Homo sapiens: one gene and its partners. The protein of the gene in region 3 binds, or shares a complex with, the protein of the main gene of each other region. Each region holds a gene or a part of one and is shown on either strand. Other genes may lie near its edges. The genes, in order: NUP98, NUP160 and NUP107.

Region 1 (10,132 bases), on a different chromosome or scaffold from region 3:
CACTGGGCACGGTGGCTCACACCTGTAATCCCAGTGCTCTGGGAAGCCAAGGCGGGCAAATCACTTGGGGTCAGGAGTTCGAGACCAACCTCGCCAACATGATGAAACTTTGTCTCTACTAAAAATACAAAAATTAGCCTGGCGTGGTGGCACGTGACTGGAGTCCCAGCTACTCAAGAGGCTGAGACACGAGAACCACTTGAACCCAGAAGGCAGAAGTTGCAGTAAACAGAGATTGCACTACTGCACTCCAGCCTGGGTGACAGACCAAGACTCTGTCTTGGTGCAGGGGGGAGGGAAAAAAAAAGGCCGGAGGCAGTGGTTCACGCCTGTAATCCCAGCACTTTGGAAGGCTGAGGCAGGCGGATCACCTGAGGTCAGGAGTTCGAGACCAGCCTGGCCAACATGACGAAACGGCATCTCTACTAAATATACAAAAGTTAGCCGAGTGTGGTGGCACGTTACCTGTAATCCCAGCTACTCAGGAGGCTGAGGCAGGAGAATCGCTTGAACCCAGGAGGCAAACGTTGTAGTGAGCCAAGATTATGCCACTGCACTCCATCCTGGGGTACAGAGCGAGACTGTCTCGAAAACAAAAACAAAAACAAAACAAAAAACAAAAAAAAAGGGGGGGAGTAGTAAAGCAAAAGCTTTTAGTAACCTAAAAGGCAGTACCTTTACCAGAGGTTTAGCCTTACAGTCAAAATAAACAGGAAGAAAGTGGAGTTTATGAATCAACAGCCCTAAGAATCTGACTCTGGCATGCCTTAAGATCCTCTCCTACTACATGTTGGTGTCCTGGTGAGCATAACCTTTTTTTAATGATTCATAATAAGTTCATACAAGATCAATCCCAAAGATAAATTCTCACTGTACAAATGCACAAAGACCATAAATAGTACCAGACGGAGGCTGGATGTGGTGGCTCACGCCTCTAATCCCAGCACTTTGGGAGGCTGAGGCAGGAGGGCTGCTTGACGCCAGGAGTTTGAGACCAGCCTGGTCAACATACAGACCCCATCTCTATTTAAAAAATAAAAAGAAAAGAAAACAGGAAGCTACCAGGCTAAATGTGTAGTGACAGTGGAATGCAACAAGCCCTTTATATAGCTTACTGATTCTGGCTTTTCCTGTGATTTGTTCCTTATAATCCCAAAAGTGGCAAAACTCTTCAAAATAAATCCAGTCGATGGCTCCAATTAGTTGGCTTTGGATAAATTAGGTTCCAACAATCAAGGTTTGAATAAGGATCTGATCATATTAGATTAAGCTGAACTATGCCATCCTGTATTCTTATCAAGACTTTATGGCCAGGCACGGTGGCTCATGCCTGTAATCCCAGCACTTGGGAGGCCAAAGTGGGTGGATCACTGGAAGTCACGAGTTTGAGACCACCCTGGCCAACATGGCGAAACCCTGTCTCTACTAAAAATAAAAAAAAAGACAACTAGCTGGGCATGGTGGCAGGCACCTGTAATCCCAGCTACTCAGGAGGCTGAGGCAGGAGAATCGCTTGAACCCAGGAAGTAAAGGTTGCAGTGAGCTGAGATCGTTCCACTGCACTCCAGCAGTCTGGTAAACACACAGACAGACTCTGTCTTAAAAAAAAAAAAAAAAAAAAAAAAAGATTTATATCTAGGCAGTCATTAAGTACTTGCTGAATTGCCTCATTAGTGAAAGGGAACTTAAAGAAGTAAATATATGCATATAAATTCCTTTTAAAAAGCCAGTGAGTACCTCAACCCAGAAATTCAACTTCTATATATTTATTTGAATGAATTGATATAGAACATATTTTATAGCAATTCAGAGTACTGTTTATAGTTTTAAAAAAAGTCTCAATGTGAAGGAAGAAATTTACTACTATGGTACATTTATACATAAAAGAATGCTAAGAAGTATTTGATAATTATCTGTATTACAGGGCATTTGTAATGTGCCACATGAAAAGAACAGAATATAATACACAGCAGGATATCACCTTTGAAAAGTTCACAAGCATATGTCACAGTGTCTGGACATATTTGTATGTATTACAAAGTAAAGAATTAAGTACAAATTGCACATTAAAATGTTTGCAGTGAGTAGTAGTCACAGGATTTGGGTGATTTTGATTGATAGCTTATCTATGCTTTCTAGTTTTATTACAAATGTAATATAAAATTTAAATTTTAATCAAGTAAACAATGTTTAAGGTCCTAAAAAAAGAATTAGAAGACATAGTTCGGCTGGGTGCAGTGGCTCACACCTGTAATTCCAGCACTTTGGGAGGCCAAGGTGGGTGGATCACCTGAGGTCAGGAGTTCGAGACCAGCCTGACCAACATGGTGAAACCCTGTCTCTACTAAAATACAAAAATTAGCCAGGTGTGGTAGCAGGCACCTGTAATCTCAGCTACTTGGGAGGCTGAGGCAAGAGAATCGCTTGAACCCAGGAGGAGGAGGTTGCAGTGAGCCGAGATCGCACCATTGTACTCCAGCCTGGGCAACAAGAGTGAAACTGTCTCAAAAAAAAAAAAAAAAAAAAAAAAAAGTCATGGTTCCTATTCTATAGGAATAGGTGGGTGTGATCTACCCACCTTGGCCTCCCACAGTGCTGGAATTACAGGCATGAGCCACTGAGCCCAGCCGCACTATGTCTTCTAATTCTCTGTTTAGGACCTTAAACATTGTTTACTTGATTAAAAGTTAAATTTTATGTTATATTACATATTCCACGGGAACCAGCAATCTTTCTGGGAAGTCCGCAATTAATACTCATAGGCTAGAAGCCAAAGGGAAATGCACAATTAGCGGGGAGCGGTAGGAGGCAGTGAGTAGGAAGGCGACAGAGGCGCAGAGAAGGACCATATGCCTTCCCCACCTGACTGCTGGGCCAGAGAGCAGGCCTCACTGATCCTTTTGCCTGTGAGGTAGCTGAATACAGCCTCCACAGGGCTGTTTTTTTGGGTTAAGGAGACTTCCTCTTCAATCTGAGGTGTGGCAGTACAGGATAGCCAGCGGGAGAAAGCTCTTCTTCGCTCCAGAATTTGAATGTATTCACGGGGTTCATTTAGCTGGCTGTCAAGCTCCTTCAGGTGGCCCCATAGGGCTTCACATAGTGTCCATGTCAGGCTCCAGTGCTTCACAACTAAGGCAGGAAGAGAAAAACAATGTTACGAGACAAAGTCTTACAACAACTTCACAGAGGGCATCCTTCTAACTGTGATGTTAAAAATACATAAATTAATAGACATCTCAAACAACCACTCAAGCTGATTACCCTGAATCTGTCTCTACCTCACTCAACTTCGTCTTACAATTTCCAGAAGTACATAGTATAAATAAATGCTTGCTCATATCATGTTTCTGTGGTACTTACATAACAAATGTAACCGTTAAACAGGTTCCCCAAGCCTAATTATGGCTAGTGTCATCTCAGATGATATCTACTTTGATCAAATTCTGTCTATAAAAATCAATCTACAAAAGTACTGTTTATCATTTAAGCCACTTACAAGTATGCACTGGTAAAATAACTTACACATTTGAAAAGACAATGAGACGATTAAGTAAATACAAAGAACTGAAGGAACATAAACAAATCTCAAAACGTGTGGCATAGGACATTCTAAAACAGCCCATTTTTCAATAAACGTGATTTGCTAAACAAAATGATTTTTCTACTGTTTGAAATATTAATAAATTAGATAACCCCTTTATCAAAGTATTGATTCAGAAAAACATGGTCATGATAGATGAGAAAGGTAATCTTGAAAGAAGCCAGGAAGAGGAATTACAACAAAGCTGTTGAGAAGACCAACAGTACTTGAGCTGGATATGGAAGAATGGATAGGATTTAGAAAAGCAAGAAGGGGCCGGGCTCGATGGCTCACGCCTGTAATCCCAGCACTTTGGAAAGTCGAGGCAGGCAGATCACGAGGTCAAGAGATCGAGACAATCCTGGCCAATATGGTGAAACCCTGTCTCTACTAAGAATACAAAAATTAGCTGGGTGTGGTGGCGCGCGCCTATACTCCCAGCTACAGTGACAGAGTGAGACTCCGTCTCAAAAAAAAAAAAAAAAAAAAAGTAAAGCAAGAAGGAATGTATTTCTCTCCCTATGTTCTCTGGATTAGGTAAGAAATTCAATTTTATAAATCCAAGGATTTGACTTGCTACAGTTCTTTGTGGAAGAATTTGTACATTAATGGGTAAAAGAACAAAGTGACAAGAACATAGTGACAATTTCTTCTTGCTTGGGAATCTGCTTAGTTAAACTCAACCTCAGAAAATGACAAGCACAGGCATTTACCTACTAGACTGGTGCCAGGAAATTCATCCTCCCGTGAACATACGCTACCACCACTATTATTGGGACATCAAACATTAGAAACATAGTGTGTACTCACTTTGTGCTTCTGGTAAGTCTCCTGATGCTTCTTTAACCCAATCTGCATAGTCATGAATGACAGCAACTCCCAGATTGGGGACAATGAGAGGACACAGTTCATCCACATGGACAGTGCTGTGTTTTAATTTGAGCTCCAGAGGTGTCTGATATAATTTCATGTCTTCATCTGGCTTTCTTTGTCTCAAACTGAGTTTTTCTAAGTGAACTTTGAATGGGGACTCAGTTAGGCTACAAGAGCAAATGAGGAATAGAATAGAAAATGAACCTAAGACAGAAGCTAGGATTTTTACTTCAACCAAACCACTGTTTCTTTTTATGATTACAAACGGAATGCAAACATTTCACTGTAGTTTTAAAGAAATTTTGTTTCTTAAACTATACTGAACTTATCTGCTATATACTGGGGAAAAAAAATCATCTGATCAGTGCATTCAGAACACAAAGGCTTCTTAGGCCAGGTTATAACAAGCATGAGAATCCTAACAGATTTAGAACTGGCTAAAACTCAAGGGCCAAAAGCTATTGTGGGATACCTGTTTCTCAAATTATACTTGGGTATCAAAAGTCATGAGGCTAAGCTTCTAGATACTAAAGAACTGATTCTAAATTACAATGAGCATATAGCTAAGCTAGGCTTGTTCCAATTTTTTTTTTTTTTTTTTTTTTGAGATGGAGTTTCACACTGTCGCTGAGGTTGGAATGCAGTAGCGTGATCTTGGCTTACTGCAACCTCTGCCTCCTGGGTTCAAGGGCGATTCTCCTGCCTCAGTCTCCTGAGTAGCTGGGATTACAAACATGCACCACCACCCTGGGCTAATTTTTGTAATTTTAGTAGAGACAGGGTTTTACCATGTTGGCCAGGCTGGTCTCGAACTCCTGACCTCAAGTGATCCTCCCAAAGTGCTGGGATGACAGGTGTGAGCCACCGTACCCGGCCCCTTGATCTAATTTTTAAGATTGATATTAATAACCTTCAAAATTCACAAGATAATGCTTAACCTAGAATAACTAAGTTTAGGATCAGTATTCTTAATTGTGAGGTTCAAGAGACATTGTTGTTTTTTCTTTTTCTTTTCTCTCTTTTTTTTTTTTGAGACTGAGTCTCATTCAGTTGCCCAGGCTAGAGTGCAATGGCGCGATCTCAGCTCACTGCAAGCTCCGCCTCCCGGGTTCACACCATTCTCCTGCCTCAGCCTCCTGACTAGCTGGGTCTACAGGCGCCTGCCACAACGCCCAGCTAATTTTTTTTGTATTTTTAGTAGAGACAGAGTTTCACCGTGTTAGCCAGGATGGTCTCAATCTCCTGACCTCGTGATCCGCCCATCTTGGCCTCCCAAAGTGCTGGGATTACAGGTTGTTTTTTATTTTTTCAAAGTCAACTTTAAAAATGAAGGATAGGCTGGGCAAGGTGGCTCATGACTGTAATCCCAGCACTTTGGGAGGCCAAGGTAGGACAATCACTTGAGCTCAGGAAACATTAGCTGGGTGTGGTGGCGTGTGCATGTAATCCCAGCTTATCAGGAGGCTGAGGCAGGAGAAGAGCCTCAGACTGAGAGGCAGAGGTTGCAGCAAGCTGAGATCGTGCCACCGCACCCCAGCCTGGGAAACAGAGCAAAACTGAGACTCAAAAACACACACACACACACCGGGGAAACAGAGCAAAACTGAGACACACACACACACACACACACACACACACACACTCTCTCTCTCTCTCTCTCTCTCTCTCTCTCTCTCTCTCTCTCTCTCTCTCTCTCTAGAAAGATGACAAAGCAGGGCCCTATCCTCCTGATTAGTTTTTTTCACCTATCATGTTGCCTTTCTCAAAAAGCATCAAGAAATGTGACTCACGGTTTAACAGCTACTGGATTGGGCAGGAATCCAAACTCCATGGAATCGGCAATCTGATGATTTTCTAGTTCATGAGAGCCATTCAGCTGTTCTCCACTATTAGCAAGAGTCCAGTTGGGGCCCCAACCAACACGAAATGAGCGTCCCATGAATAGGGCCATGTCCATCAAGAGTTTTCCCTTGCCATAGGTGACAGACTTTTCACGAGGGACTAGGCCTAGTTGCCTACGTGTACCCACTGTTTTCAACGGAACCTCAGGGGCTGGGCTGGGCATTGTGAACACAGAAGTCAGGGGTGGAGGGACAGACCAAGAGGATGTGGATGGGATATTCATTAAAGATGCTGCTCTGGGAGTACGACATTCTTGCACAGAGACACTTGGTGAAAGAAAAGCTCCACTTGTAAATTTTGATTGTAGTAACCCACCAACTGAAATGAAGCGGGAATGAAGGGGAGAAAGACTATTACAAAACACAAGCTATTGTTTCTTGAACAATAACAAAAATCAGTAAGGCTGAAATCATTCAATGTTTAATCAAACTACTTATATCAGATGTGGATGACCAGAAGCAGGCTAAGTCAGATTTTGCAGAAATTACTCTTTGAACTAGGAAATCAGGACAAGATTCTAATGATGATGATGATATCTACAACAATAATAAAAGCAACAACACTATTAATATTATTTAAAAATATGCAGCAGGCTCTGTATAAGTCATTTGTATATGTTATTTCATTTCACTCTTCAAAAACTTTTTTTTTTTTTTTTTGGAGACAGAGTCTCGCCCTGTAGCCCAGGCTAGAGTGCAGTGGCATGATCTTGGCTCACTGCAACCTCTGCCTCCTGGGTTCAAGCAATTCTCTGCCTCAGCCTCCCGAGTAGCTGGGATTACAGGTGCCCGCCACCATGCCTGGCTAACTTTTCTGTATTTTTAGTAGAGACAGAGTTTCACCATGTTGGCCAGGCTGGTCTTGAACTCCTGACCTCGTGATCCACCTGCCTCAGCCTCCTAGAGTGCTGCAATTACAGGCATGAGCCACTGCACTTGGCCTCAAAAACTTTTAAATGATTAGCATTATTATCATTCCTATTGTATATATGAGAAAACTGAGCTCAGATAAGTGACTTGTCCAAATCTACAAAGTGACAGGACCAGGAGACAAGCCAAGGTTAAGTCTGGCACCACTCCTCATGCCCTTATCAGAATCCTAAAGGTAACGATTTCTTAGCACATATAAAAGTAAGATCAAAACTCAAATTCCTACTCTACTCTAAACAATGCTACAGTCAACGAAATAAAAACACACTAGGTATCTTACAATTGTACATGTGACCTTCTGAAGGACAGTTCTTTAAAAAAAAATTTTTTTAACATTTAAATTTTTATCTAGCTAGCTAGCTATTATAGGGATGGAGTCTTGCTATGTTGCCCAGGCTGCTCTCCAAATCCTAGCCTCAAGCCATCCTCCTTCCTCAGTCTCCTAAAGTGCTATGATTATAGGCATGAGCCACTGTGCCCGGCTGAAGGACAGTTCTTATTACCAGTGCCTGTTTCCCAATTTTACGTGGCTTTTGTCTAAAGCATGGAGTTAAATATTATTGAAGTACCAGATTTTCATGTAGTATCCATTACGGAAAAGGTTATTAAGAATGTTTAACTGATACTTTTTTGGTTAATATATTTTCTTTCTTTCCTCTATACCAAAGGGAAGTTAAAAATATTTTTAAAAAGCAAAGTTGATAATAAGGGAACTCAAAAGAATTGAAAAATATTTAGTTTTTAAAGCAATATAAACAAATGTCTCTCTGCCAGTTCCTCTGGCTTTCAAAATATGTTGAAACTACATCTGCTTAAGTTCTTTGCTGATATTAAAACTTTATTTCCAATCCCACATAGTTACAAGCCCACTAGAAAAGAGAAAACTTTAAAATCAAATATGTAATCACTTCCCTGGGAATTTAAAAAGGTTTAGTGAAAAGTAGAAATCTGATGTGCTCTGTGCATTACGAGAAGCAATACTTGTCCCTAGAAGACAATAAGACAGTGCTGTAAGGACTGCACAAAACAAGTATAGTGCAGGACAACTTGCTGAACTAAGTAATGTTATAAAAATTGGGAAGTCAGAGCTTACTATCTAATCCACATTCATAAGCAAACAAAAACATGAACCTAAACAAAGCACAAATGCTTTTTTTCTCCATACACTTCTGCATCTGCACAAACAGAGGTAATTCTAGTTCTTAAAAACCGGCCACTCCTGCCAGGTGCAATGACGCATACCTGTAATCTCAGCACTTTGGGAAGCTGAGGCAGGATGATCAGTTGAGGCCAGAAGTTCAAGACCAGCCTGGGGCAAGATAGCAAGATCCATCTCTATAAACATTTAAAAAAATAATTAGTTGAGTAGTGGGTATATGCCCATAGTCCTAGCTACTCAGGAGGCTGAGACAGGAGGACTGCTTGAGCCCAAGAGTTCAAGGCTGTAGTAAGTGCGACTGCATAACTGCACTCCAGTCTGTGCAACAGAGAGAGACCCTGTCTCTAAAAACAAAAAACCTGGCTACTCTTAATGAATACTTATAAGTACAATTTCTCTTAGCACCCTTATGTCACAGGTATAGTTGTTTGGCAGATACTTGCTAGAGAAGTCCACTTGGGTTAGAAGAAGAAAAGTGAAAAGCAGGACTTGATGACTGTACAGCTTTCTTGTAAAATAGCATCTTTTATACTGTACCTAGTGAACGAGTTTTCGACGAGTGGGATGCTGAAATGGGGAGTCTGGGAGAACAGATTTCTTGAGAAGTATCTGCTTTGGAAGGCAGGCGACTGAAGCGTTGATCCAGTGCCATATCTACATCTTCTTCATCAGTAAGCAATGATGCTTTCATGATCTAAAAAGGCAATATCTATAGAATGAATGTGCTTCCCAGAATCAAAAGGCCATACCAAAAAAAAATGCAGTTTACAACAACCAAAAATATTGTTCCTCCTCAAGGCTGTGTACAGAGCTAGTATATTTGTGTGATGGATGGACCCCATTACACTGTGTGTGCCTGAAAGGCAGAATTCATATAATACTTCTCTTCTTTGTATCTATAGCGTCTCACCAGAGCCTGGCACACAGCAGTTGCTATGTTTGCTGATAAAATAATTTTAAAGTCAAACATAAGCCAAAGGTTAAACACATAACACACCAAAAGGCACTGGGATAAAGGGAAGTAAAGACATAGCTTAAAGAAACCTGTGCTACTAGGTACTAAAATTTTTAAATTTTGTGGAGCACATACAGAGTCTTAAAAGTACCCTGTGATGTAGACAAAGTAATATTTTATAGAGAAAAATCAGTACTCACAGCTATTATATGACTTGCACAAAGTAATAAAGTTACAAAATTGGGATTGGGGCCGGGCTCAGTGGCTCATGCCTATAATCCTAGCACTCTGGAAGGCCAACGCGGGCAGATCACCTGAGGTCAGGAGTTCGAGACCAGACTGACCAACATGGAGAAACCCCTTTCTCTACTAAAAATACAAAAAAAAAAAAAAAAAAAAGTAGCCAGGTGTGGTGGTGGTACACGCCTGTAATCTCACCTACACAGGAGGTTGGGGCAGGGGAATCACTTGAACCCAGGAGGTGGAGGTTGCAGTGAACCAAGATCACACCACTCCACTCCAGCCTGGGCGACAGAGCAAAGAAACTCTGCCTCAAAAACAAAACACAACAAAATTGGGATTGGAACTAGGACTCTGGATTCTAATGCAGTTAAAACCAGAAACCCTATCTACTAGTTCTCAATATAGCCTTATCTCCTTGAATAAGAGAATGAGGCCCAGACATTGGCCATATTCTTGTATTTTTTTTCCCCATTACAGTGAGCACTCAATGA
Region 2 (11,035 bases), on a different chromosome or scaffold from region 3:
TTCTGTATACTCCCCATCCAATGCAACAGTAATTCTAACAAATTCACCTTGAAAACATATCCACAATCACAACATTTCTCACTGCCTCTGTCACTACCACCCTGATCTAAGCCACCATCATGTGTGAATTGTGGCACCAGCCTCCTAACTGGTCTCCCTGCACCTACCCTTTCCCCCACCACGCTCTATTCTCAAGACAGCAGTCAAAGCAATCCTTTAGAAGCCCAGATCTTAGATCACGTCATTCCTCCACTTTAACCTTCCACAGCTTCTTCTCATCTTACTCAGAGCAAAAGCCAAAGCTTAAAATAACCAACAAAGCCCTGATCTGGCCCTCAACTATCTCTTTCTTATTATTCTACCCTTTGTTCACTCAGCTGCAGACTCCTGGCTCCTTTCCACTCTTTGAACACAACAGGCTCCTGTTTCAGGGTTCTTTGCACTTTTTATTCCTTTTTCTTGGAAGGCTCCACCTGAAATACTCATTCCCCAGATATCCTTTCTTCTGCTCAAATGTCAGCTTACCCCTGGCTCTTGCCCAACCACCCTACATAAAACATTAACTCCCACAGGTATTCCTCTTCCCTCTTATGCTGTTCCCTTTTTCCTATTCCATTAATCAACTGACAAACTGTCAGAGGCATGTGAACCAGAACAACTCCATCTTGAATAGGAGTTGGGTAAAACAAGACTGAAACCTACTGGGATGCATTCCCAGACAGTTAAGGCATTCTAAGTCACAGGATGAGATAGGAGGTCAGCACAAAATACAGGTCATAAAGACCTTGCTGATAAAACAGGTTGCAATAAAGGAGCAAGCCAAAACCCACCAAAACCAAAATGGCGACAAGGGTGACCTCCAGTTGTCCTCACTGCTACACTCCCATCAACGCCATGACAGTTTACAAATGCCATGGCAACATCAGGAAGTTACATCAGGAGTCTAAAAAGTGGGGGCATGAATAATCCACCCCTGTTTAGCATATCATCAAGAAATAACCATAAAAATGGGCAACCAGCAGCCCTCGGAGCTACTCTGTCTATGGAGTAGCCATTCTTTTATTTACATTTTTTTTTGAGATGCAGTTTTGCTCTTGTTGCCCAGGCTGGAGTGCAATGGTGTGATCTCAGCTCACTGCACCCTCCACCTCCTGGGTTCAAGCTATTCTCCTGCCTCAGCCTCCCAAGTAGCTGGGATTATAGGCATGTGCCATCATGCCCAGCTAATTTTGTATTTTTAGTAGAGACACGGTTTCACCATGTTGGTCAGGCTGGTCTCGAACTCCTGACCTCAGGTGATCCACCTGCCTCGGCCTCCTAAAGTACTGGGATTACAGGTGTGAGCCACCATGCCTGGCTTCCTTTACTTTCTTAATAAACTTGCTTTCACTATGCACTGCGGACTTGCCCTGAATTCTTTCTTGTGCGAGATCCAAGAACCCTCCCTTGGGGTCTGGATCGGCACCCTTTTCCTGTAACAAAACTGCATGTACTTGGGGTTTTTTGGTTATTGTTGTTGTTGCCTATCTTCCTCCATAAGAGTAGGGACTTTGTTTTGTTCCCTGCTATATCCCTGTTCCCTAAAAACGGACTGAAATACATTAGGCAAGCAAATTTTCTTTCTTTCTTCCTGTTTTCTTAAAAGAGATGGGGTCTTACCCTTTTTCCCACCTGGAGTGCAGTGGCATGATCGGATCCTCCCACCTCAGCCTCCTGAGTAGTTAAGATGAAAGGCACACGCTACTCCGCCTGGCTTATTTTAAAAAATCAGGCTGGACACGGTGGCTTACGCCTGTAATCCTAGCAAGTTGGGAGGCCGAGAACGGGGCACTGCTTGAGTCTGGCAGTTCAAGACCAGTCTGGACAACAAGGCAAAACCCCATCTCTACAAAAACAAATAGAAAAATTAGCTGGGCATGGTGGTGCATACTTGTAATTCCAGCTACTTGGGAGGCTGAGGTGGGAGGGTCACTTGAACCCAGGAGGCGGAGACTGCAGTAAGCCATAATTGCACCAATGCACTCCAGCCTGGACAATGGAGCCAGACTGTCTCTCAAAAAGAAAAAAAAAAAAAAGCAGAAAGAAAAAAAAATTTTTTTTGTAGAAATGGGGTCTTGAACTCCCGGCCTCAAGAGATCCTCCCACCTCAGCCCCCCAAAGTGCTGGGATTACAGGTGTGAGCCACTGTGCCCAGCCAAAATATTTAATTAAATGAAATTTGTATCTCTAACATAAAGTCACTCTTTTGAGCCTTAGACCTGTAAACTTCAATGCCTACTTGACATTTCCAAAGGGCTGCTCCCCAGGTACTTCAAATTTACTATGTCCAATAGAATTATTCATATCTATCCAAAATCCATCTTCCGGGTATCTCTGTAAATGGCAACCCCTCCCCACTCACATCTGGTTAGTCACATGAGACACCAGGGAGCTGTCCTTGTTCTCTCTTCTTTTACCATCCCTTACCCCATATTCAATCCACCACCAAGCCCTAGTGAATCTATCTTCCAAAGGTATCTTGAATCCATCTACTTTTCTATTTCTAGTCATTCCCACAATTGAGCCACCAGCAACCCTTACTTGGGCCATGATAAAAGCAAAATTTTTTTTGTATTATACCCATCTAATCCAAATCCACTTTCCACAAAGTAGACTGAGATCTTCTAAAAATACATTTAAAAAAATTTAGATTCAGGGGTACATGTGCAGGTTTGTTACATGAGTATATTGTGTGTATATTCCTATATACATGAGGTTTGGGCTTCTGATGATCCTGCCGCCCAAGTTGTGAACACAGTATCCGATAGGTTTTCCAACCTTTGCTCCCCTCCCTCCCTCCTTTTGGAATCCCTAGTGTTAACTGTTCCCATCCAAAAATGCAATTTTGATGTTAGTAACTCTTTAAAAATCTTTCAATTATTACTCAATGTACTTAGGATAAAATCCAAAAATCCTTAAAAATGGCCTAAGGGTCCCTCATGGTCCGAGTCCTGCCTACCTCTCCAGCCTCAGTATCTCACATCACTTTCTGTTTTACCCACTGCACTTAAGCCACACAGATCTTTGGTCAGTTCCAAACCCGCCACATTCTTTCCACTTCATGACCTTTGCATATGGTGATCCTACTTGCTGGACTCCTCTCTGTCCACTCCCCATGCCTGGCTAACCTCGTGTCCTTTAGATCTCAGGGTAACTGTGAATTCCTTAAAGCCTTTCCCTGCCCCACTAATTATATTTGGTCCTCTTATTAGCCTCTCATAACCCGTATATTTTTCCTCTAGGGCAAGTTTTCCTCCAAAAAATTTCCCCATGAAAAGTGGGTCTACATCTATTCTGACATTGCTACAACGTCTTGCATGATGAAAATTGCAGTTTTGTTCATTTCGTCCTGGTACCTAGCACAATGCCTGACATATTGAAGCTCGAACGTATTTGTACAATGAAGGAAGCTGTAAAGCACTATAAAAACATAACGGGTTCATGTTTAAAATTGGTCTTATGGGCTTTATTCCCCTAAGCTACATTTCCTCTGCTTCTGGTGTTGCTTGGTGTATGTGTGTGTGGGGGTGGGGGGGGGGAGGGGGAGAGGTATCTCTTCTAGAACTCTGTGTCTCAGTTTTCCCGATTCTGATACGAACTGAAAAAACAATCTTTCTCTTTCCCTAAGTGTCAATTACCGCTTCTAGAATAGCACTTTGGGTACAGCGACGAAAATTTATACACCAAACCCTACCTTCCAGGGGAGTTTGGCGAACCACAACACTTACCAATGAATGAACCTGTTTCTGGTTACGGAGAACAACTTGCCACTCTCCACGTAGTAAAAGCCTCCCGCGCTTTCACTGTATTTTACGGCGCCAGCCACGGCATTTGCAGTCCCTGCAAAATGAACGTGGTCAGCCTGCACACGCGTCTTCTGAGAAATGACAGGGACTAAGGGAGCTGACAAAGCAGAGAGTGACAGACTGACAACCCATACAAAGAAAAGAGGAAAACGTCGGACATCAAGGAATCTCTGATCCCGGGGCTAGAGGCATGTGGACTCAGGAGGATGAAACAGGGCGTCAGGGACCCTGGGACCCATGAGAGGAGCCCGAGGGGACAGATGGGATCGCACCCTCCCTGGCCATTTCCGTACCAATGCTGCAGACTGTGAATTCCCGAAAGTGCCTCGGCCTTTCGCGCTCAGCTCCGCTTAGCTCCACGAAGCTCCGTTCCAGGGCTCCCGCCGCCGCCATCTTCCCGCCGTCGCCGCGACGCCCAACGGAACAAAGGCAGGGCCGCGCGGTCGCCGTCACTTCCGGGGGTGGGGCGGGCGGAGCTGCGGACAGGTGAAGCATTCCGGGAGCAGAAAGGCGGCTCCGGCCCTTCGTTGCGAGGCTTCCACCGGGAGAATGAGGGTGGGCAGCGAGGAATCCAGAAGAGAAGGGGGCAGGGGAGGCAGACTCTATCTGCGGGAACCTTCCAGTGGCCGGCTGGAACGCCTCCGGAGGGCGGTGCTCTTTTCTCAGCGGCCGCAGGGCAGGGGGCGGGGCCGGGTTTGTTTCTGTTTCTAAAACGCGGGGCTCAGTCGACCAGGAGGGGCGAGGTCCGGGGAGTCCCGGCCTTTCGGCGTCCTCTGCCGGATCCCGGGTTTATGGTCACCTCTCCCTCGGTTAGGGTGTCCGTCTGTAAATCTTTGGCGATCCTCCCTTCGCTCTTCAGTGGCGACACTTGGGATGGCGGGGTGAGGAAGGGGTAGTGAGGGAAAGGCCTTTGGTTTTGGTCTTTCCCCTCCCCAAGAGACTGTATTCGTGTATTCCTGTATAATGAAACGTAATGTGGTAAACCTTGGTGCTGCCACTTGCTGAGGTTACCTGAGTGCTACTCACTTGGATACGTGAAAGGAATTTGCCATTCCTTCCACCCGTGATCTTGCACTTGGCTGTCAATGCAGTAAGGGCCCATAGTGGGTGTTTAGAAGATATTGTGGGAGTAGATGTTCAAAATCGAGGAAAATGCTAATCTCCAGCGGGGAAGGTTTTGTTCCTTAGTGATAGCCAATAGAAGTTAAAGCACTTCTATTACCAGTGACCACAACCATTCCCTGTCATTCTCCGTTTCATTTATCTGGTTCCGACCATCATTTTCTATCTTTCCACTTCACTCCCTCTGGGACACCAACTTTGGCAGTGCAGTCCCCTCATTCTACCTGGAATCCATTGTTCTACAAAATCTTCACTGTCCCACACTTCTTTGGTGTTTCTTTCTTATCCTGAATACCATTAAATTACTTCATTGCCTAACTCTTCATCGGTAAAAACTACAACTTCGACTACATTCAAATCTGTAGCTGAACATGACTGGAGAAAACTATACACCCGGGTCGGGCGTGGCTCCCAGCATTTTGGGAGGCCAAGGCGTGAGGATCACTTGAGGTCAGGAGTCCGAGACCAGCCTGGCCAACATGGTGAAACCCGGTCTCTACCAAAAATAGAAAAATTAGCCGGGCGCGGTGGCTCACGCCTGTAATCCCAGCGCTCTGGGAGGCAGAGGTGGGTGGATCACGAGGTAAGGAGTTTCAGACCAACCTGGCCAACATGGTGAAACCCTGTCTCTATTAAAGATACAAAAAATTAGCCGGGCATGGTGGTGCACGCCTGTAATCCCAGCTACTCGGGAGGCTGAGGCAGGAGAATCGCTTGAACCTGGGAGGTGGAGGTTGCAGCGAGCCAAGATCGCGCCACTGCACTCCAGCCTGGGTGACAAAGCGAGACTGTCTCAAAAAAAAAAAAAAAAAGAAGAAAGAAAAAAAGAAAAATTAGCTGGGCATGATGGTGCGCTCATGTAATCCCGGCTACTTGGGAAGCTGAGGCAGGAGAATCGCTTGAACCCGGAAGGTGGAGGTTACAGTGAGCCAAGATCTCGCCGTTGCACTCCAGCCTGGGCAACAAGAGCGAAACTCCGTCTCAAAAAAAGAAAAGAAAGAAAACAGAAAACTATACACCCATACTGACATGCCTCCCTGTAACTCCATCAGGACCATGTACCTTGAGTGGGCCCATAATGCTGCCCAGCAAACACATTGTATTTGCCTTCTCCATTTACTGTTCTAAATGAATATTTCATAACTCCTATAACCTCCATTGCCTCCTTTGTCATCCTGACTCTCAGCTTGCTTCTTCATTTAGAAAATTAAAGCAGAGGCTGAGATGGAAGGATGGCTTGAGGCCAGGAGTTCAAGACAAGCCTGGGCAACATACCCCCATCTCTAATAAAAATTTTTAAAAAACTAGCCAGGCATAGTTGTGTGCCTCTGTAGTCCCAGCTATAGGAGGTTTCTTGAGCCCAGGAGTTGGAGGATACAGTGAGCTACAATCCTGCCACTGTGCTCCAGCATGGCCAGAAAGACACCCATCTGGAAAGAAGGAAGGAGGAAGGGAGGACTTCCTCTATAATGACATCTCCCCACCTACCAGCATCTGTAACCACATATTTTGCCTTCCCTTCCTGTTACTATAAACTGTCTCTGAGCTTATGCAGAGACAACCTTTCTACTTCCTTAGAACACCTGCTCAAGGACATCATTCTAGCAATTCAATTATTTCCATTTTCAGTCTTTTCCCCTTTTCTCTTAGTACTGTATGTACTAAGCATACAAACATTCCCTCGACCTCCACTCTCTGCAGCTACTACTCCATATCTCTTCTCCTCTCACCCACAGCAAAACTCAAGAGTGTTTTAATTCCTTCTCTCTCATTCTCATATATATATATATATATATATATATATATATATATATATATATATATATATTTTATTGAGATGGAGTTTCGCTATTGTTGGCCAGGCTGGAGTGCAATGGCACAATCTCGGCTCACTGCAACCTCCGCCTCCTGGGTTCAAGAGATTCTCCTGCCTCAGCCTCCCAAGTAGCTGTGATTACAGGCATGCGCTGCCCTGCCTGGGTAATGTTTTTTGTATTTTTAGTAGAGACAGGGTTTCACCATGTTGGTCAGGCTGGTCTCGAACTCCTTACCTCAAGTGATCCACTTGCCTCGGCCTCCCAAAGTGCTGGGATTACAGGCGTGAGCCACTGCATCTGGCCTCATTAAATCCATGTTTTTCAGGCTTTTGCTTCTACTGCCTTGCTGAAACTGCTTTTTTCCGGGTTATCAATGGCATCCACATTATCTGTCTAATACTAAACTGCTATTTCTTTTTTCTGACACATAATCTTGCTCTGTTATCCAGGCTGGGGTGCAGTGATGTGATCCCAGCTCATTGCAGCCTCAAACTCCTGGGCTGAGGTGATCCTCCTGCCTCAGCCTCTCGAGTAGCTGGGGCCACAGGCTTGTGCCACCATGCCCTGCCAAATTTTTTATTTTTTATTTTTTGTAGAGACAAGGTCTTCCTATGTTGCCCAGGCTGGTCTCAAACTCCAGGCCTCAAGCGATCCTCCTACCTCTGCCTCCCAAAGTGCTGGGATTACAGGCGTGAGCCACAGCACCTGGCCTGAACTGTTATTTCTAAGCTTATTTGACTACTTGTAGAATTTGACCAATTGCTTGCTCCTTCCTCGTGGAAACACATTCTTCATGTGGCATCAAGGACGCCACTCTCTTGATTCTACCTATTTCACTAACTGTTCCTTTTCAGACTCCTTTCCTAGATGCTCCTCTTTTCCCCAACCTCTTGATGTTGGAGTGTCCAGAGTTCAGTTCTTGGTCCTTTCCATCTACAAACACTCCCCTGAGAATCTCACCCAGTCTTCTGGCTTTAAATACTGCATTGTTATATGCCGATCATCCCCAAATGTATACCTCCAGTCTAAGCTTCTCCCCCGAAGTCCAGGTTTATATATTCAACGGCCTATTTTGTATCTTAGATGTAACATGTCTGAAACTGAAGTCCTAACCTCTCTCCCCACACTTACTTTCCCCATCGCAGTTACCAGCACTGTTCCAGTTGCTCAGCCTCCTGAGTAGCTGGGATTACAGGTGCTTGCCACTACGCCTGGCTTATTTTTTTTGTATGTTTAGTAGAGATGAGGTTTCACAGTGTTAGCCAGGATGGTCTCAATCTCCTGACCTCATGATCTGCCTGCCTCGGCCTCACAAAGTGCTGGGATTACAGGTGTGAGTCACCGCGCCTGGCCACACTTCAACTGTTATTATTTACAAATTCCTGGTTATCTAAGTTATAACTGCTCATGACACTGATGTGCCACAGTAGAGAGAACTATTCCGAAGACTGATTATTTCCACTTTCATATCTAGAGGTCAGACCTCTTTTGCCGAGTTCTCAGCCTTTTATATTCAGTTGCCTCCTTGATGCCCCTTGGATTTCCCATGGACATCTCAAATTCAACATATCCAAAATGTTACCCCTCTCTATATAGTCTCACTATATACTCTCACATGTAGTCTATATCTGTGTGGACATCACCACTGTGGCCCAGTCTAGAAATCTAGTAATTACCCTGGACTTTTCTCTTTTAATCCCAACACCCAAATCTCATATATCCATATGGCAAAAGAAAGATGGCCACAAATTCTTTGACATTGTTCCCATCCAGAAGTGTAGCCTTCTTTGTCCCCTCCCCTTAAATCTGGAGGGTTCTGTAACTGCTATAAGGAATATAATACAGCAAAAGTGATGCTGTGCCAGCCTAGCTTAAGAGAGTCTACATCTCTCTTTGAAGACTGGCTATAGGGGAAGCAAGCTGCCATGTAAGAAATTTGGCTACGCCGGGGCCATCCTAGGCAGATTGCAGGGAGAGACCACACACAGAGACTCTAATTCTACTTGAAGTGAGAGATGCCTGGTAAGTCCCCAGGTCCCAGATATTTTGTAGAGCACAGATGAGTCATGACCACTGAGCCCTGTCCAAATTGCATATTAATGAGCTAAATACATGATTGCTATTTTTATTTTTATTAAATTAAATTAATTAATTAATTAATTTTGAGACAGAATCTCACTCTGTCGCCCAGGCTGGAGTGCAGTGGCTCAATCTTGGCTCACTGCAACCTCCAGCTCCTGGGTTCAAGTAGAGGTGGGGTTTTACCATGTTGGCCAGGCTGGTCTCGAACTCCTGACCTCAAGTGATCCACCCGTCTCAGCCTCCCAAAGTGCTAGGATTACAGGCATGAGCCACCGCGCCCGGCCTCAATGTACATATTTAATGTAGTAATGTTTTTTCATTTTTTTCTCAGAAAAAAATGTTAAATTGATGAGGCATGTTTCGGTTTTATAGGAATCTAGGAATTACATTTTTTGACAGTGAACACTTTTTAGCTTTAGATCACTGTCTTATCTCCAACATCCATCAGAATTCCGGGAACTTCACGTTACCTAATAAATGTTTGAGGAATAATTAAATGAATGAATAAGTGCATATATGCATTTTTGGAAAACTCAAATACCCTTTGAACTATTAATGTTCTGGGGGATGGTTATAACATAAATTGAATCATATTGCCATCTAGTGGTTAGGTAGTGACTTCGTTTAGAAACAAAATGCAGAATGTTACCAATATTGTGCAGCAAGTTTTATTTAAATACTTTTTTTTTTTTTCAGATGGAGTCTCGCTCTGTTGCTCACACTGGAGTGAAGTGGCGCGATCTCTGCTCACTGCAACCTCTACTTCCCAGGTTCAAGCGATTCTCCTGCCTCAGTCTCCTGAGTAGCTGGGATTCCAGGCACGCACCACCACACCTGGCTAATTTTTGTACTTTTAGTAGAGATGGGGTTTCACCATGTTGGTGAGGCTGGTCTTGAACATCCGACCTCGTGATCCGCCCGCCTCGGCCTCCCAAAGTGCTGGGATTCCCGAAGGCGTGAGCCACCACGCCCGGACTTTTTCTTTATTTTTTTTTTTTTGAGACGGAGTTTCGCTCTGTTGCCCGGGCTAGAGTGCAGTGGGGCATGATCTCAGCTGACTGCAATCTCTGCCTGCTGAGTTCAAGTGATTATCCTGCCTCAGCCTCCTGAGTACCTGGGATTACAGGTGCCCGACACCACGCCCGGCTAATTGTTTTATTTTTAGTAGAAACAGGGTTTCACCATCTTGGCCAGGCTGGTCTTGAACTCCTGACCTCGTGATCCACCCACTTTGGCCTCCCAAAGTGCTGGGATTACAGGTGTGAGCCACTGCGCTCAGCTGAACAATACTGTTAATTGAACTTTAAGCAGATTTTCATAACCAACTTGATAGCTACTCCTTGAAAGAAGAATTTGGTGGTTTAAACAAGTGTGGGAAATGATGATAAATAAAGTTAAACATATTTCTTTCTTGAAGAACTTTTCAAAGACATTAATATAATAGCTTTGTGAAGTTCCAAGAAGGCCTTATGCATGATACTGCTTTCCAGACTCTTTGACATACAGAATACTCTTTTCAAGGGGCAACTCATTGGACCATTGTTCTTTGAGAATATATTTTGGAAAACATGGCTTTACTTTCATTTTGCCCATAGGTTAAAAATATCAGCTGGGCATGGTGGCTCACACCTACAATCCCAGCATTTTGGGAGGCTGAAGCAGGAGGATTGGTTGAGCCCAGGAGTTTGAGACCACCCTGGGCAACATAGTGAGACTCCATCTCTACAAAAAAAAAAAAAATTATCCAAGTATGGTAGTGTACACCTGTAGTTTCAGCTACTTGGGAGGCTGGGGCAGGAGGATCCCTTGAGCCCAGAAGTTCAAGGTTATAATGAGCTATGACTGTGCCGCTGCACTCCAGCCTGGGTGACAGAACGAGACTCTGTTTCTAAAAAAAAAAGCAGAATTGTGGAATAAATGAAGTATGTCAGTGACTTCTCAATTCCGTTTTCAGTATTCTTTCTACCCACTTAGGAAACCACCATGACTTTAGACTCCAGGGCCTTTGAGGGGCCCTGAAAGCCCAGGGCTCCCACCTAGACTTGACCCTCCTGTGCTTTGGACTTATCCTTGGGAACTATACACCCTGGATTGTTTTCACCTTTCAGGTAATATTTTCTATAAATTTCTCTTTTTTTACTTTTTTTTTTTTTTTCTGAGACAGGGTGT
Region 3 (10,132 bases):
ATCCGAAAAATCATCATGAAGTAGGCACATCTGTGGCTTTCTTTACAGTCTCACCAAATAAGCTCTGATGCACAAATGTTCTCGGATAGCATTATCATCTTCAGCAGGAAGTGGACTTTCCATTCCTTGTTCCTCGCACTGATTATAGATTTCTGCTATAGAATCCTGAGGAATTTTCACAAATACTTCTTTTGCAGCTTCGTGCTTTTTTGATGCTGTGAAAAAAGATACACAATTTTGAATGCCTACGGACTTCTCTGTAATGGTTTCTAAAGGAGTCAAATCACTGGTTTACCAATTTTACAGTGACCTGTAACTATTTCAGGGCCCAAGGCACTCTGTTAAAGGTCTTGGTGATCTTTCTACCTGATAGACTGGCTTTTTCGTATCTCAATGTGATACTATCACAAAAGGATACATCAAATGCAGTTACTTTTACATACTTTTATGTCTTAAAGCAATTCATTTTTCAAAGTCGGATAGCCTTGAGATTATTTGCAAAATTGATTAGGACAATGAAAATTCACCATTAAAATATATTTTGTTTCATAATACCAGGTTTGATAGATAAAGAGTGGCTGGTTTTCTCCTCCCTATGGAAGGATCAAAAACAAAAAGCAACCCCCCACCCCAAATTCAAAAATACACGAATTTGAACAAAAACGTTTTAAAAAAGAATAAAAAATCTGGGTGTGGTGGTTCACGCCTATAATCCCAGCACTTCAGGAGGCTGAGGTGGGAGGATTGCTTCAGGCCAGGAGTTCGAGACCCGCCTAGGCAACATAGTGAGACCCCATCTCTAGAAAAAATTTTTTAAAAATTAGGTGGGTGTGGTGGTGGGTGCCTGTAGTCCCAGCTACTTGGGAGGCTGAGGTAGGAAGAAGAATGGAGCCCAGGAGTTTGAAGCTGCATAAAAATATACTATACCCAAGAATTTTCTCATAATTGCATTGCCTTGTTTCAGTGCTTCTGCCCTCTGCGCTGGGTCAAATACCAACCAGTCAATTACATCAATTTTTAAACGATCCTCCTATTTATTAAAGGGGAAAAAAAGAAAAAGGAATATCAGAGTTTTTTTTTTAAAGATATTCTACAAATTAGTAGAATTAACTTACACCTGTACTTCCAGTAAACATCATTTTCTCTCAAGTTATACAAAATTATGAAAGCATCTAACTTTCCTTAGTGTATTTTCATATTTAACAGCTCTCTATTAAATTATAGAAAATACTGCTGGGCATGCTGGCTCACACCCGTAATCCCAGCACTTTGGGAAGCCCAGGCGAGCGGATCTCTTGAGCTCATGAGTTCGAGACCAGCCTGGACAACATGGCAAAACCCCTTCTCTACAAAGAATACAAAAAATTAGCCAGGCATGGTGGCACATGCCTGTAATCCCAGCTACTCGGGAGACTGAGGGAGGGTGGCTTGAGCCTAGAAGGCGAAGGTTGCAGTAAGCAGAGATAGCGCCACTGCACTCCAGCCTTGGTAACAGAGCTAGACCTTGTTGTCTCAAGAAAATAAAAATAAAAATAAATTATAGAAAATATTAATCTGGAATTATATATTGTATGCCTTACCAACTTAACCACGTGATTCCTTTAAATGTTACTCTAAAATAGTTTTCTTAGATATAACTTTCTATTCCTTTCTGAAAATATGAGTAAGCAAGCTACATAAGTTAGTGATTAATCAAGTATTTAAAATAACCTGATGAGCAACAAGCCAAAGCTGAGATTTTTTTCTATTAAAGAAGCTCCTTTAACATACTACTATAAGTAATCCTTTACATAAGACTTTAAATTTAAAAGGTCTGGGCTGACAAAGACACATTCTTAAAAAAGAAAACCTAATAGAACTTCTTTTACGAAGGGAGAAGTTCACCAAGGAATAACATAAAAGATTATTAGAAGTTATAGAAACCTCTGCCCCCCCATCCCAAATTACCTCAGTAGTGCCAGTATCTAGGGCTGGGGCCAGGTCATGATGACTAAATTCACCATTATCTTTCTTTCGAATATTCTCAACTACAGTTTTTGTTATTGTTGCAACATCCAAATCTAAATAATTTTTTGAAGCGACAAAAAACAAAGATTAATCATTGATACTAATATTCTCTAAATAGTCATAATGATTCAGTAAATTTGGAACAGTAATTCCTTAAAAATAAAATATGTAAAATATGAAAGATATTTATATAAAAGAAAATGCCAGAATTAAAAGATATTTTACATATGAGTTACAGCATAAGTAACTTTAGTCCTAAAACAGAAATTCCCTGAAAATTTTATTCCTCTTTTCCCCTCAACAGAAATAAGATTTAAAACTATAAGGACAAATGTTACTACAGCCAAAATGAACATTTGCCTAGAAAGGCCAAAAGACAAAGTTTTCAACCATTTTTACCTGCTTCTTTAGCCAACTCCAGGCAATGGTGGCGCTGTTCAAATTCTGTAACACTTTCCAAAAATAATGCATACTGGGCAACAGCTAGGTCTTGAGGCAAATGACAGGTATAAAATGCTATAAGATTTGTATGTTTCTCTCTTATTAAAAGCTAAAAAATAGAAAAAGATCAAAGTATGTCAATAATAAAATTAAAAGTATACTTCAAAATTTCAAATGTATTCAGGAGAGGTTCATACAGATGTGGATTTGTGTTGCTAAACAGAATAATTTTATTTTATATTTATTTGTTTGAGACAGGGTCTCACTCTGTCACCCAGGTTAGGGTACAGTGGCATGATCATGGCTCACTGCAACCTGTCTCCTGGGCTCAGGTGATCCTCCCACCTCAACCTCCCGGGTAGGTGGGACTACAGGCACATGCCACTATGCCCTGCTAATTTTTTGTATTTTTTTTTAGTAGAGATGGCTTTTCACTATGCTGCCCAGGCTGGTCTCAAACTCCTGGGCTCAAGTGATCTGCCCACCTTGGCCTCCTAAAGTGCTGGGATTACAGGCATGGGCCCCTGTGTCCAGCCCAGAATAATTTTAAATTCCAAAAAGTGAGTACAGTTGGCTCTTAAACTGCACAGGTTTGAACCGTGGATTTTTTTCGATAAATATATTGGAAAATTGGCTGGGTATGGTGGCTTGCGCCTGTAATTCCAGTACTTTGGGAGGCTGAGGCAGAAGTATCACTTGAGACCAGGCCTGGTAGCTCTTGCCTATAATCCCAGCACTCTGGGAGGCTGAGGCAGGCGGATCACCTAAGGCCAGGAGTTCAAGACCAGCCTGGCCAACAAGACAAAACCCTGTCTCTACTAAAAATACAAAAATTAGCCAGGCGTGGTGGCGCATGCCTGTAATCTCAGCTACTTGGGAGGCTGAGGCAGGAGAATCACTTGAACTTGGGAGGTGGGTTGCAGTGAGCTGAGATCATTCCACCACACTCCACATTCCGGCCTGGGTGACAGTGAGACTCTCTCAAAAAAAAAAAAAAAAAAAAAGGTAGTATCACCCCTGAGGGCAGGAGTTTGAGATTAGCCTGGCCAACATAGTGAGACCCAGTCTCTACAAAAAAATAAAAAATAAGTTTGCTGGCCATGGTGGCACGTGTCTATAGTACCAGCTACTTGGGAGGTTGAGGGGAGAAGACTGTTTGAGCCCAGGAGTCTGAGGTTACAATGGGCTATGATCTAGCCAGTGAACTCTAGCCTGAGTGACAGAACAACATCCTATCTCTAAATAAATAAATACATTAATTTAAATATATATATATTAGAACATTTTTTGGAGATTTGTGACAATTTGAAAAATATTCATGCTTGAACCCAAGAGGCAGAGGGTACAGTACAGTGAGCTGAGATTGCGCCATTGCACTCCAGCCTGGGCGAGAGAGTGAGACTCCGTCTCAAAAAAAAAAAAAAGACTCACAAACAAATTAATAGCCTAGAAATACTGAGTAAATTAAGAAAAAGCTAGGTAGGCCAGTGGCTCACACCTGTAATCCTAGCACTTTGGAAGGCCGAGGCTGCTGGATCACCTGAGGTCAGGAATTTGAGACCAGCCTGGCCAACGTGGTGAAACCCCGTCTCTACTAAAAATACAAAATTAGCCAGGCGTGGTGGTGCACACCTGTAATACCAGCTACTTGGGAGGCTGAGGCCAGAGAATCGCTTGACCCCGGTGAGGCAGAGGCTGCAGTGGCAGTGAGCCAAGATCATGCCACTACACTCCAGCCCGGGCATCAAAGTGAGACTCCATCTCAAAAAAAAAAATAAAAAATAAAAAAAAAGGTATGTCATAAATCCATTATATGTAGATTCTGGTCTATTTTATCACTTACTACTATAAAATATATATGAATCTATTATAAAAAGTTAAAATTTATCAAAACGTACACACATTTACAGACCATACATTGTGGTCTAGAGAAATGTAAACAAGCATACAGATGCAGTATTAAATCATAACTGCATACAACTAACTGTAGTAGATACTATACTACTGTAATAACTTTAGAGCCACTTCCTGCCACTACTGGGGTGAGCTCAAGTGCTGTGAGTATCCATTTAAAATGCCGTGTGATGCTAATCATCTCTGAAGAGCTGTTGGTCTCTTCAGTTGCATACTGCAATAAAAAGTAAGCTTTCCCAGGTCTTGTTTTTTTTAGTGCAATACTATAAACCCTTAATAACACCACAGGAGCCATACAAAGTGCCAGTAGTGATACTGGAAGTTCTCCCAAGAAGCAGAGAAAAGTCATGAGATTACAAGAAAAAGGTGAATTGCTTGATATACTGTAGATTGAGGTCTGTAACTGTGGTTGTCCATTTCAAATAGACAATTCATCTTGTAAACAGACAACATAAACTTACAGTATTAACAGGTACAGTATAGTACTATAAACGTAGTTTCTCTTCCTTATGATTTTTATTATTTATTCTTTTTTTAACTTTTAAAAGTTATTTATTAATTTTTAAACTTAAAAAAAAAAAAAAAGACAGGTCCAGGCCGGGTGTCGTGGTTCACGCCTGTAATCCCAGCTCTTTGGGAGACTGAGGGGGGTGGATCATGAGGTCAGGCGTTAAAGATCAGCCTGGCCAACATAGCAAAACCCCATCTCTACTAAAAATACAGACAATTAGCCAGCACCTTTAATCCCAGCTACTCGGGAGGCTGAGGCAGGAGAACCGCTTGAACCTGGGAGGCGGAGGCTGCAGTAAGCCGAGATGGTGCCACTGCACTCCAGCCCGGGTGACAGCGCAAGACTCCGTCTCAAAAAAAAAAAAAAAAAAAAGACAGGTTTTCGCTGTTTCCCAGGCTAGTCTTGAACTCCTGGGCTCAAGCGATCCACCCACCTCTGTTTCCCAAAGTGCTGGGATTACAGGCGCAAGCCACCACGTCTGGCCTGATTGTTTTTTTTTTTTTTTTTTGAGATGGTCTCACTCTGTCACCCAGCTGGAGGGCAGTGGCGAGATCACAGCTCACTGCAACCTCCAACTCCTGGGCTCACTCGATCTTCCTGCCTCAGCCTCCCGAGTAGCTGGGTTTACAGATATGAACCACTGTGCCCTGCTAATTTAAAAAAATTTTTTGTAGTAGAGAGAAGGGTCTCCCTATGTTGCCCAGGCTGATCTCAAACGTCTGGACTCAAGCAGTCCTCTCGCCTCTGCCTCCCAAAGTGTTGGGATTACCGGTATGAGCCACCTCGCCGAGCCCCTTATGATTTTCTTAGTAATGTTTTCTTTTCTCTAACTTACATTATCATAAGAATACAGTACAGTTGAGCTTTGAACAACACGGGATTGAACTGTGCAGGTCCACTTCTGCATAAATTTTTTTCAACTCAACTTAGAAAATACAGTGTTATCTGGATGTGAAATCTGCAAATATGGAAGGCCAATTTTTCGTATATGCAGGTTCTGCAGGGCCAACTGTGGGACATGAGTATACACAGATTTTGTTATATGTGGGGGTCCTGGAGCCAATCCCCCAAGTATACTGAGGGATGACTGCATATGATACATGTAATATACAAAATGTGTTAATTGTGTGTTTATGTTATTGGTATGATTTCTGGTCAGCAGTAGGGTATCAGTAGTTAGGTTTTTGGGGAGTCAAAAGTTATAGTGAATTTTTGATTGTGCGGGGCGGTGGGGGTTGTTTTCCTAATCCCTGCATTATTCAAAGGTCAACTGTGCTGATAATTAAAAGATCTCTTATGGATTCTGATGCTTTCTTACCACTGAGAATTAAAATAGCATCATTCTGAGTTTTGTTTTCATTAAAATAGTAAAAAACAATCAGGTTGTAGGTTCTCAAAGTTTACCTGTATGTATGTCTTTAAAACTTCAATAGAAACTTCCTCCTTCATAGGAAAAAAAGACATAATTATAAATACACTGCTTATATGAAAGTAACAAAATTTTTGATACAAATTCCATTATTAAATAATTTAATAATTGTAATGTTTACCACTGAGCAGTAACTATACACCAAGCTAAGTGCTTACCAAAGTTCATCTACTGCCTGATTTAACCTTACCATAACTCTTTTTGGGTAGTTACTATTATTGTTCACATTTTACAGAGGATGAAATTAGGACCAAGGGAAGTTTTATTTACCCAGAGTTACACAGATAGAAGCTGCTGAATAAGGGTATATACTCAGGACTCCTACTCCAAAGCCCAAGCTTTCAACTACTGTATCATTCACTTTCTACATGCACTCTGACCAAAATGTTATCTTCTTTTTTAGAAAAAAAGCAACAAAACAACAACCAACAAAGTTTTAAAATCTCACATAGCACTCACTTTGTTTAGTTAGCTTAGCTGGTTGATTTAAAGCTGGGTACAGACAAGGATAAAGTTATGAATTTATTAAAAACCAGTTAACCAACAGCATTCTGTGGCCACAGACTAGAACCCTAAAGGGCCACTCTCAGTGAGTTATCATTGAGTGACTATACAAGACTATATGGAAGACTTTTGATTCCTTATCACCATTTCTAGAAAACAATAATAAAAAAAGTAGTGTTTTCTTGACAATAGGTATATAGCATCAACATTACAGAGAAGAAGAAATCGTTCATTTTTATATACCTTGGTCTGTAGTCCCAGAGTACGGAAAAACAAAATAAGGTGAGTCATAAAGCGAAGCAGGTGTCCAGGTAGATTGTTTCTGCTTTTGGAAAGCCATTTGCTAAACTCATCCATCAAACCTACAAGCCATCAAAGTGAAGATTCAACAATAGGAATAAAATCAAAAGAAAAAAATAAACATTACCAAGAACATTTATTTCACTCCTATAGTGCTTTCAAGTCACTGTCTCATAATTAATAGCCATGATATAACTCTACACCCTCTTTGAAACAGAGTTTGGGTTCAATCCGAACTTTATTTTATAAAAACCAAATGAAAGGTCACCTCTGACATAAAGTAAATAGTTGCATTCAAATAGGTTAATATTTATCAAGATTAAAAGATATGGTAAGTCACATGCATTGTTTGGATAACTTTAAAAAATCACTATAAGACAATGAAGAACTCATAAAGAGTAAAATAAAACTGGCTGGGTGCAGTCGCTCATGCCTGCAATCCCATGTCTATAACATATAGCACTTTGGGAGGCCAGGGAGGGAAGATCACCTGACGTCAGGAGTTGGAGACCAGCCTGGCCAACAGCGAAACCCCGTCTCTACTAAAAATACAAAAATTAGCCAGGCGTAGTGGTGCACACCTGTAATCCCAGCTACTCAGGAGGCTGAGACTGAAGGATCTTGTGAACCCAGGAGACAGAGGTTGCAGTGAGCTGAGACTGAGCCACTGCACTCCAGTCTGGGCAACAGGGTGAGACTTTGTCTCAAAAAAAAAAAAAAAAACACACACAAAAAACACAAAGTAAAATAAAACCATATCTTACCATCAATGTCTCCCAGGATAAGAAACTTTTGAACTATATGATAATGTTCTTGATTCTCTTCCAGAACTCTCTGAAAAAAAAGTTTTTAATTTTCCATAAATCTTCTAGCAGTCATTCTGTAGTATATATTCACTGTTAAACTAAAAATGTTAAACTTTTGAAGGAACATATAGAAAGAAAAAGCTGGAAATGAAGGGCCTTAGAAAGATCAAAACAAAATAAAACATGGAAAGGATACTGCCTTTGGAATATACTCACAGCTTACAAATCCAGAACTGAAAAGCATCTTTGAAAGTAGAGACCTATGTTATAACAATTTAATCTCTCAATGGTATTAAACTTTTATTCTTATATTTTATTCCTATTTACCTTGGCACTACACATGGTGGACGAGAAAGGAAGAACTCATGTGACCTAAGCAAAATAAACTATTAAGATTTCTTTCAACATGAGCAGCAGTACATGAAAGCATTCTTTGAGTATTCTCTTCTGTACATGGCACCAAGGGTGAAAAAAAAAAATAGTGATCAGGTACAGAGTAGAGAAAACCTTTTCTAACTTATTTGCAGCTTGATTTTTTGAAGAATATAGTTCATTTTTTGTTGTCAAACGTATTTTAATTTTTATTTAGTTGGCTGTCTAAATTTTCTTTCAGCATTTATTAATTTTTACATTCAAACCTTTGCTCTATATGGAATTTATTTTAGTTACATGGCATGAAGTAGGATCTAGCTTTGTTTTCTTCTGGATGGAAAGCCAATTATGCCAGCGCCATTTATTTAAATAAACCATCCCTTTCCCTCTGAAATGAAATGTCACCTCTGACATCTGTTAAGTTCTCATATATACTTGGATCTAGTTTGGACTTTGTGTTCCACTCATCTATTTATTTTCATGTCAGTTCTATACTGTTTTGTTGTATCTTCATATTAAGTGTTATTATTGAGTAAGGCAAGTACCCTCTAACTACTTTTTTTGCTTTCAGTGTGGTTTTTTTTGTTTGTTTGTTTGTTTTTGAGACAGAGTCTCACTCTGTTGCCCAGGCTGGAGTGCAGTGGTACAATCACGGCTCACTGCAGCCTCCACCTCCCTGGGCTCAGGTGATCCTCCCACCTCAGCCTCCTGAGAAGCTGGGACTACAGGAGCATGCCACCACACCCGGCTAATTTTTAAAATTTTTTTTGTAGAGATGGGGTTTTGCCATGTTGTCCATGCCGGTCTCAAACTCCTGAGCTCAAGTGATCCTCCTGCTTCAGCCTCCAAAACTGCTGGGACTAGAGGTGTGAGCCACCAAACCCAGATTGTTCTTTTTCAAAATGCTCTTGCCATTCTCAATTATTCTTCTACTTGACAAAATTTTCTGTCCAGAAGTAATACCCCAAAGCATTAGGTTTTTATGCTAATTTTGGAATGAGTGACATTTATATTAAATGCCCTCATCGAGGAACATGATATATCTATTTATTTATGTCTTATTTTATGTCCTTCAGTAAGATTCTATAGTTTTTTAAATGAAGGGCTTGAAACCCTGGATTAATTTTTTATTCCTAGATCTCTTTAGTTTTGGTCACTCGTTTAAATGGAACTTTTGGGGAGGGGGTACTAAATCCTTTTCTAAATAGTTATAACAAGCACAGAAAGACTTGACTTTTAAAAAAAAAACGTTGTCTTGTATCTGGCTACTTTAACAAATTCTCTTATTAATTCTAGTAACTTACTGAGCTTTAAGTTTCTAGACTAATATTTTTATCATATATAAATGTTCTTCCCTTTCTAGTATTTATATCTGTTCCTTAATTTTCTTGTTTTATTTCATTAGCTAGAATATCCAAAATAATAGACTGGTAATAAACTCTTGACAGAAAAAGCATTAATTTCCTTACTATATCAAGTGCTCCTATATAATAATAAGAAAAATATAAAACACCACAGAAAAATAGCTAAAAGATATGAACAAAAAATTCACAAATGGTCAATAAACATAAGGAAACATGCTCAGCCTTATGAATAGACAAGAAAATGTGAGTAGAACAGCAAGTTCCTATTTCCCACCTACTCTGATGGATTGGCAAAACATAAAAAGTGTGACATTTGAGGCTGGTGAGAATGTATAATTCAATAAATTACTTGTGGAAGTATGAATTAACTGCCACAACCAGGTAATAAATTATTTTTCCATTTCAATTTTTTCTTTTTTTTTGAGACAGAGTTTCGCTCTTGTTGCTCAGGCTAGAGTGCAACGTTGCGATCTTGGCTCACTGC

Evidence for each region.
Region 1: NUP107 (region 3) and NUP98 share a complex: the UniProt entries of both Homo sapiens proteins name them as parts of the nuclear pore complex.
Region 2: NUP107 (region 3) and NUP160 share a complex: the UniProt entries of both Homo sapiens proteins name them as parts of the nuclear pore complex.

Annotation. Positions count from the first base shown.
Region 1 is NC_000011.10:3,696,220-3,706,351, forward strand, and holds part of NUP98 (nuclear pore complex protein Nup98-Nup96 isoform 1 precursor), read right to left. Parts: intron 9,138-10,132; coding exon 8,981-9,137; intron 8,620-8,980; coding exon of another isoform or gene 8,527-8,619; intron 6,674-8,526; coding exon 6,244-6,673; intron 4,621-6,243; coding exon 4,391-4,620; intron 3,130-4,390; coding exon 2,863-3,129; intron 1-2,862. UniProt on the Homo sapiens protein: Plays a role in the nuclear pore complex (NPC) assembly and/or maintenance. NUP98 and NUP96 are involved in the bidirectional transport across the NPC. May anchor NUP153 and TPR to the NPC.
Region 2 is NC_000011.10:47,844,081-47,855,115, forward strand, and holds the start of NUP160 (nuclear pore complex protein Nup160), read right to left. Parts: upstream 4,239-11,035; coding exon 4,139-4,238; intron 3,880-4,138; coding exon 3,768-3,879; intron 1-3,767. UniProt on the Homo sapiens protein: Functions as a component of the nuclear pore complex (NPC). Involved in poly(A)+ RNA transport.
Region 3 is NC_000012.12:68,723,535-68,733,666, reverse strand, and holds part of NUP107 (nuclear pore complex protein Nup107), read right to left. Parts: intron 7,941-10,132; coding exon 7,871-7,940; intron 7,169-7,870; coding exon 7,050-7,168; intron 6,317-7,049; coding exon 6,278-6,316; intron 2,558-6,277; coding exon 2,407-2,557; intron 2,061-2,406; coding exon 1,948-2,060; intron 1,031-1,947; coding exon 928-1,030; intron 216-927; coding exon 55-215; intron 1-54. UniProt on the Homo sapiens protein: Plays a role in the nuclear pore complex (NPC) assembly and/or maintenance. Required for the assembly of peripheral proteins into the NPC. May anchor NUP62 to the NPC. Involved in nephrogenesis.